Regions from separate parts of the Homo sapiens genome. Here region 1 is linked to region 2. The links come from fine-mapping of genetic effects on gene expression. A gene starts in region 2. The other region holds a variant in brackets. All regions are shown on one strand. Distances are from middle to middle.

Region 1 (4,388 bases), 190 kb after region 2:
ACTCGAACCCAGGCAGCCTGATGCTATACCCTGCACTCGGCTGCTGAGTAATACTTCTGGTTATTATTACTACTAATTAGCACATCTTCAGGGGATCTCTATCTTAGACTATGCTTGGGTGGAGAGAGTGCTGTTGTTGAAGTATGTAAAAGAGGTCGTGGGATTATTTTAATCCTGGAGTATTTATATAAAGACTAGAAGGAGAATCCATGAGGAAGGCCCTGTGAACACAAACAAAATGACTAGAGGGAGGGGTAAAAAGCCCAGAGTGAAAACTAATTCATTCTCAAATGATTATTTAAAATAATACTAGTCCTTATTCAACCACCTAAGTGCTCACGTGCTATAATTTGGCAACAGTCTTTTGATGGATATTATTATCTTGTCCATTCTGCAGATGAACAAATTGAGGCTGAAGAGAGGCTAAACGGGCTCCAAGACACACAGACAGTGAGTAACCCCCAAACTGTTCATAAATGCGCCTTGGTGGTAGTGTTGGGGCTCATGGCCACACTGAAGGGCGCTGGCCGGTCTCACACTAAGAACCCATTCTGTGCAGTGTGCCCTGGGAGATTCAGAATGTGGGACACAGTCCTTGCCCTAAGAAAGTCACAGGGAATGGGATGTGGAGGATAACAGCATGGGATCTGAAAAGGGCAGACCTGGAGAATTCTAGCTCTGCTGCTCACTGGCTGAGTGATTGGGCATGTTTGATTAGACTCTGAGCTTTGGTTTCCTACCTGTATAGTGGAGCTACAATTGTCTACTTTGAAAGGCTCTCACGAGCAATATAGTTATGCCAAGCTAGGGTGCCTGGCGCTCAGCACAGAGATCTCACTACAGTTCAACTGAAGAGCAGAAACCCACGCAGCTAGCAGTTCGAGGCAACACTTGCTAAGTACCGACCTTGAGGTTCAACTAGAGGCATGCAAAGAATTACATGCAGATTGGGCTGGGCCCATTAAGACAGGCTCATAGAGAGGGTGTGAACTTGGACTTGTCTTTAATTTGGAACAAATGGAGCCCATGGGAAATTCACATGGGTAACTCCAAAGAGCTGATGGGTAGCTGTTTTTAAAGAGTCAACATTGATCATTACTTCCTTTCCCTGGGGCCAGGTCCTCTCTGCTCCACCACCTCCTTGAAGAGTTGAGCATCGTAAAGAAGAAATACCTTTGATAAAGCTGCCTGGGAGGGAGCAAGCATGGTATGTCCTGGGAACTTGCAGTGGTTTGGCAAGATCTGAAGGCAGGGTACTGGGGGAGAGGCAGCTGAGCAGTGGGTGAGGCGAGATCCTTCCACTCCCAGCAAAGGCAGTGTGAGATTCGCTGACTAAAGTCTAGCAACTGAAGTGAGGCACGGGTCAACTTCCATTGGAGAGGTGGCCACCAGAGCCAAATCCCACAGAGAGTTCATAAGGACTGGAGATGACCCCTAGCTATGGTAATTATGGACCACAGCAGGGATGCTTTCCCACGGGTGGAGGCAGAGATGAGCAGAACACAGACCTTGAGCTGAGGTCTCCCGGCCTGTTTTCCATGGTGGTGAACTAAAGATGCCAACTGTCTTGAAAACAACCTGCATCCCGCTTCCAGGGGAGGGTCATGTGAATGCCAGTGTGACTGGGTCTTGGGTAGTCTCAGCAGACACAGAGCAGAAGGAAGGCTATCGTTGGAGTGGGCCATCTTGGACATAGATCCTTGTACTTTCTGGCAAGCCTAAAATCTTGGCAGTGATGATAACAAGGAAGTTAACATCTACAATTTCTTCATGTAAAGTTTGATCATGCAGGGGATGCCCAAAATTGGAAGGATGCTTTTCTCCTACTGCATTCTAGCTTCTTACTAAAAAGTGGCCCACACTCATAGTGGCTCAGAAGCTTCAAACCTCCTCAAATCCCCAGCTTTGTCGAAATGATGGGACTATCCCTGCTGTGTCACAAACCAAATCAAACACCTATGACACAGCACAGTGTAATGGCTCTACTAAACATTTCTTTCCTTTGGACAGCTTGGTCAATATGGTCTGGGTTATTGGACACACAGTCCTGGAATATCCTGCTGTTATTTGCTGCATTTTTCCACCTGCATGATAAAAATG[T/C]ATTCCCACAGCCTTGGGTTCATTCTGATTTTGTTTTGATTATTGGAAGTTGCGTTGGTGCTTTTTAAAATGAGATAGACCTTCAAAGGGAGCCAGGGAACGAGAAATGAAACACAGGTATGGAGGCATCTACGAATAAAGCACACAACTTTATTCACGAAGTTGTGAGTATGACAGTGATGCAGAGTATATGACAAAGGAGTGCAGTGAGTGCTGCTGGCAACAGGAGCGGGGAGCAGGTAGGGATCACAGGCACAGCAGCGCGGAGCCGGCAGGGCCACCTCCTCCTCTACACACAAGCATGTGGCACTTAGCGCGCCAACACACACCTGCTCAGTTTCACAGGGAACACGACACAGCTTTTCAAAAGGAATTCTTCTAAACATTTGCTTTCATATTTCCAAAAGGGGAGGGAGGGCAGGAAGAACCACACACCTTCCAACATTTGAAAAAATTCCATAAACCCAACTTAAAATCAAAGAACTCAGAGAGCTTCAATGCGGAGTCATCAGCAACTCGCAGGAACCACACACATGATTGGACAAGTCTGTACATAAAACCCCAAAAGAACATCAGTTTTGTGGACAATGGTTTCCTCTGCTGTAAAGAAACGTATGCATATATGATCAGTAAGCAGCTCACATCTTTCTGAATGTCAAGGTCTACAGGATTGTCTCTGTCCACCTTTGGTCAATGGGTTCAGGAAGTGACTCATGGGAACTGCACTCTTAGGAGAAACACTTTTGGGAATAATTTTATTGAATAACAACCACCACTCAATTACACTAAGCTTCAGAAATTGTTGGATTTGTTTAATTTTGCTGTGTACCTATACATTGTTTAGAAAGTTTCTTTTGGCTTAAACTGACCATTTCCCCCCTTCTTTTTGAGTTTTCCATGATTAAACTTGCCCAAATAAAAACATAACAATCCATATGCAAAGCATATCTGCCACCACCTCCCACTGCTTCCTGGGCCGCAAACAGAAAAATAAACAGTGATTAAAAAAAAATGCCAAAGTGAAGGTTTCTCTTTCTTCTATCACAACATAGTTGGGTAGTTCCCTTAAAGTACATCATTGCTATAAGTTGGTATCACTGCAAATCTCAAGTCCCAAATAATCTCTTTTTCTGGATAGAAAGTTATTCAAAAGGGAGCACAAAAGAGCAAGCTTTGGGGCATACTGACAAACACTTCATTGGTTAGAAGAGAATAATTGTAAAAATCAAATAAAATTGAGGCTGGCATAGGAAGTACAGATTAAATACAGGTTAAATAGCTACCAGAAACACAGAAGAGGTGGTTAATAAAAACTGAGATTGCTTCAGAGGACACAGGAGGGTTGATGAGACAGTCTATTTTCCTTCCACCATCTTCCATGAGAGTCAGGAAAAGGGTTCTGTGAGCACCCAACCTGGAGCGGTCACCTGTCTCTTCCATACACAGGAGGATGCTAAGACCCAGTTAGCTTTAAATGGTTTTTAGAAAGACTTACCTAGTCAAAAGTGGTTAATTTGAACTTTTCAAACTTGCAAAAGCATATACATTTGATATCATCATCTGAGAAGCAATTCTTAGAAAAAAATGTTTGCTTCAATGTCTAAAGAAATCCAGTGAAAGTTTTAGAAACATTGCCAGCTAGACGTCTCCGAGTTAGAGTTGATTGATATACTGGATTGGGATGGAGAGGATGAGAACTGAAAAAGAACTGCTCCAGCCTCTGCCTCAGAAGAGGAAACTCAGCTTGGAGATGACAGAATTGGGTAGCGGAGTAGATGCTAGAGCCCATGACAGATAGAAAACTACCCCCATTTAAAAAAAAACAACAACTCATTAACTCTATCTCTTTGAGGTTTTGGAGAACAGGAAGTTTATGTGAAGTTATTGAACACGTCATATTAAGAACATTTCATAACTAACCCCAAACCAAAATGTAGATGCATAGCTAGCTGTGCAAGTTTCCCAATGCTCTTCCTATCTCCTAATAAGTCACACAGAAAGACTATGTGATAGCCTGGATTTTCTTGAAGAAATTTTAAAAGAACTGATTTTCCTATCATCATTGAGGCCCCTTTTACTTCATGCCATCATTATGCACTTAAGAGTCCCAAGGAAGTCAAATGTTCCCAAATGTAGCCCTTTACATCGGCACCAGGGAAGCCTGCCATATATACAATCCCCTTCCTAGGGTGAACAAGCTCCACCAGTTTGAGTGTGTTAATAACTGGAATTTTCATGTATAGTACAGGGTAGGGTAAAAGCAGACCAATAGCCATCTTGTGTGCTGT
Region 2 (4,391 bases):
TATAACAAGCTGTTTCCCGTCTCCCTTCCAGTCATATATGGGAACTCCGCTTTTAAGATTTCTCTGGATAATTTAAGGTCAGGAGTTCGAGACCACCCTGGCCAACATGGTGAAACCCCATCTTTACTAAAAATACGAAAATTAGCCGGGCCTGGTGGTGGGCGCCTGTAATCCCAGTCACTTGGGAGGCTGAGGCATGAAAATCGTTTGAACCTGGGAGGCGGAGGTTGCAGTAAGCTGAGATCCAGCCACTGCACTCCAGCCTGGGCAGTAAAGCGAGACTCAGTCTCAAAAATATTTCTCTGGGGTCCCCTTGGACAAGAGGGGGTCCTTTCAGTCAGTGGAGGACATGGGGTTTTATTTCTGAGGGCATTTACTGTGTGCAAGTTACCAGGCATTGGGCTGCAAAGATGAATAAGGCAAGCTCCTGGGAAGCAAGAAGCTTACATGCCCCTTAGAATGATTGTAATTCATAATAACTTTATTTTTTAAATCCTTGTAAATCTTCACAAAGGAAGGGATGTCATGGATGACAAAAGTAGCTACCCAGCTTTCTGCATAAAAAGCCTCCACCCCTGCTGGTCACCCACTCAGCACTCAGCACTCACCAGGGCCTGCACCACCTGCCTTCCCTCCTGCCCAAGTGCACACCCCGGACAGACTGATTATACATTGATGTGAAGAAGTCTGAAGCAACAGGTATCTTCACTGTATTTATGCTTTCAGTTCTTCATAATCACAGAATGAAAATGTGAAATACCTCCCCCCCCCCCGCCCCCAATTAAAGACATGCCAAATACTTCAGGAACAACCAGGATTGAAATTTGGCTTCTCCAAGGTAAGCCTGATAAGGTCAAAGTATGCTGGTACCTGTTAAACAGCATAAGGGGTACAGGGAGAGGGTTGTCAAAGGTAGAATTTCCACTTTCTTGAGGACCTGGGGTCTGCCCTTGTTGGACATCTCTGGAGCAGCACAGGCCACTCACCCCATTTGACTATACAGCACTTAAAAATGTGGCGAGTCCAAATTGAGATGTGCTTGTGAGTATAGAATACAACAGGATTGGCCAGGCGTGGTGGCTCACGCCTATGATCCCAGCATTTTGGGAGGCTGAGGCGGGTGGATTACCTGAGGTCAGGAGTTTGAGACCAGCCTGGCCAACATGGCAAAACCCTGTCTTTACTAAAAATACAAAAATTAGCCGGGCATGGTGGTGTGCACCTGTGATCCCAGCTACTCGGGAGGCTGAGGCAGGAGAACCATTTGAACCTGGGAGGCAGAGGTTGCAGTGAGCCAAGATCATGCCATTGCACTCCAGCCTGGGCAACAGAGTGAGACTCTGTCTCAAACAAAAAAAAAAAAAAAAAAAACAAAAAAACAGGACTTTGAAGACAGCATAAAACATCTTTATTGATTACATGTTGAGATAATGTTCCGGATGTTTAGGTTAATACTGAAATCCAGCTTGCTGTTTCTTTTCACTTTTTATTAAATGTGACCACTAGAACATTTAAAATTACACACGTGGCTTGGTCAGTATTTCTCTGGGGCAATGCTGATCTAGAGGCAGAGACCATCCCTCCCCAGCAGTTAGACCTCAAGACTAACTGCTGTCCCCTGTGGGGATGATGTGGTGGTACATTATGTCTGCTGCTCTGGTGTGGCCCTGTTTTTATTTTTGGGTGCTCAGTAAATGTTACTGGGAGAAATGAATTACAGGAAAAATGAGTCCTTTCCTAGCCTCCTTCAATGAGGTTTGCAACATTAAAGTCACCACGGGCCACTTTCACTGGAAGCTGTCAGTGTCGGAGGTTTGGAAATTAACTGAGAACTACAGACAGGAAAGGTGTAAAGCAAATTATTTTCCTATCAGATTGACATTTACAAGAATAATGGGAAGGAGCATGGAAAAGAGGAAGCAGGTCAACCTTCCTTGAGGACAATTAGATAATAGGCATCAAAAGTCTTAAGTTGTATAAAACCTGTATCCTAGAAATTTACCTTTTCGTAGTTTATTCTAAGGAATTAATTGGACAAAAGCACAAAGACATCTAATTGTATTATTAAAATGGAAAGTTTAATATTCAACAATAGCAGATAGGTTAAGTACATTAGGACATTATGAAGTGGCTTAAAACGGACATTCAAAAAAAGGAAATGGAAAACCTGAGTAATGTACAGCTTGTATGGAATGAACTAAAAATATATAAATTTTTGCATAGGTAGAATGACATTGGAAGAACATACACCACAATGTTAACTGATTATCTCTGGGTGTTGGAAAATGATTGATTTATCAACTTTTTTACTGTTATTTCTTTTCTTTTTTTTTTTTTTGCAATGAACAGGCATGCTCTGGCAGTTTTTAAATGAAGTATGGAAATTATGGATTGTGCAGTCATAGTCAACGTTCATTGAGAGCTTACTTTATATAAAGCATCATGCTCAGCATTGTGCTTTGTGGCATTTGATTTTTTAAAAATCAAACGCCCTCCAATCTTAAGCAAGGATGATGGCCAAAAGGTCGGCTTATTACCCAACTGCAACAATAGGAGGGACAGGTAATTAAAAGGCAATTGCCATGACAAATAGAAAAGATGCCAAAGTCAACATTTTTTCAAGGAGCTATAAAGCCCGTGGAGGAGTCAGCTGACGGCACAGTGTTCGCGGCTGCACCGCTCGGAGGCTGGGTGACCCGCGTAGAAGTGAAGTACTTTTTTATTTGCAGACCTGGGCCGATGCCGCTTTAAAAAACGCGAGGGGCTCTATGCACCTCCCTGGCGGTAGTTCCTCCGACCTCAGCCGGGTCGGGTCGTGCCGCCCTCTCCCAGGAGAGACAAACAGGTGTCCCACGTGGCAGCCGCGCCCCGGGCGCCCCTCCTGTGATCCCGTAGCGCCCCCTGGCCCGAGCCGCGCCCGGGTCTGTGAGTAGAGCCGCCCGGGCACCGAGCGCTGGTCGCCGCTCTCCTTCCGGTGAGTCCCAGCCCCGAGTTGGCTCTGGCGCCCGGGTACCCGCCAGTGCCGGCTGCCGATGACCGATTCACGCTCCCGGTACTGGGGCCCCCTCTGCCCAGCCACCCCTACCCAGAGCACCCGGGCTGCGCGGCCCCGCCGAGGGTGCGGGCTTTGTTCGCATTGTCTGCGCGCACCTGAGCGCGGCCTTCCTGGCACGGCGGCGTCGGGGGAAGAGCGCACCTGGCGCGCGCCTCCCTCGTGGCCACTCGCGGTCCGTCCCGGGCGAGCTGGCGGGGTTTTGGGAGGGGTGCGGTCAGCAGGTAAGTGGGTAGGGGCTCCGGGTACAGGGGTGGAGGAGGGCATGTATTAAACCCAAGCTGCCCTCCTGGCACAGTAGCGGGGCCCCCTTCCCTGGCGGCCGCGGAAAGGGACTCGCCCTTTGAATAAAGGCTTTGGTGACATGCTCGCTTCCACCCCACACCCCACTACAGGACATACACAGGTGTTAAGGGGACTTGGGGCAGTTTTCCCAGGCAGAACGAGTGCCCCCAGCGAAGTGTCTGCAAGCAGAACCTGAGAGGGGCCGGCTGCCCCGAGAGTCCTCGCGCTTGGGCAGTGGGAAGTCCAGGGGTTTGTCGTTCTGGTGACTTCCCCCACCTGGCTCAGCCCTGCTTCCTGCATGTCTCCTTCCCTTCCAATAAGGCTAACAAAACTTTCCCTAGCTAAGCCGACCTTTCCCTCCCGCCTTGGGCCCTTGGCCACCTGCTGGGACGGTGAATGGGAGAGTCTCAGAATTGAACCTTGAAAACTTGCTGGGGGCACCAGACAGAAGAGAAGGGAGGAGGGCACCTTGCTGCTTGTGATTGTGGAATCAAGGGCTCCAGCTGAAGCTGAAAGGGGACTTAGCAATGGGGACCTCATGCCATGTGTTTGATGTCTTGGAGATTGGAATAATTAGAACGTGTACATTTTTCAAATTACAAGCTGCTTTAAGTAAAACCCCAGAACCTCTAAGTGTTTTATAAATTCAGTCCCAAAAATTCAAGGTCTCTTTTGCTGTTAAGGTGACACTATATTAAGAAATGTCGATTTATTGAAGAGTCAGAGAAGTGAAGAGGTCAGAAAGGTACCACTAGAGTTGGCAAAAGCCACAGGCATGAATTTGTAAATGCTGCTGGCTTTCAGCAGGCTGAAGCCATCCTCTCTTGTGACTGATGGGGGTTCAGAGCTCCTCAGGCCTTACTCTTCTTTTGTAAAATCCAGCCCAGAGCCATCTCCTAGTAGTGTAAGAATTTCTCAGACTAGGTCCCCAGGCAAATCCCAGGTTGGAGAAGAGGATTGCTTTCCTCATCATCTCTGGCTGAAAACCATCAGTGTATTTTCATTAAATCTGGTTTTTGGTCTACCGTACAGAGATTACAGCCAGTATTTCCCC

Direction of the effects. Positions count from the first base shown, and alleles are read on the strand shown. Sizes are in standard deviations (SD) of each study's normalised expression.
In carriers of allele T in region 1, the expression in pancreas of the gene that starts at base 2,659 in region 2 tends to be higher than with C alone (moderate effect, 0.51 SD a copy in GTEx).

Evidence for each region. PIP is the estimated chance that this variant, and not a neighbour inherited with it, causes the effect. A credible set is the group of variants that fine-mapping cannot tell apart.
Region 1: its variant is the best candidate, but not a certain one, in a credible set for the expression of VWA2 in pancreas (GTEx, PIP 0.80).

The regions. Positions count from the first base shown.
Region 1 is chr10:114,428,882-114,433,269 of GRCh38, forward strand. It overlaps ABLIM1 (actin binding LIM protein 1), which reads right to left. Exons shown (of 23, transcript NM_002313.7): 23 at 2,231-4,388. Among named protein-coding and RNA genes, the nearest start is that of AFAP1L2, 27 kb to the left of the region's middle. The variant T/C (reference allele first, on the strand shown) is at 2,101.
Region 2 is chr10:114,236,596-114,240,986 of GRCh38, forward strand. It overlaps VWA2 (von Willebrand factor A domain containing 2), which reads left to right and starts at 2,659. Exons shown (of 14, transcript NM_001272046.2): 1 at 2,659-2,974. RefSeq lists an enhancer at 2,570-3,278.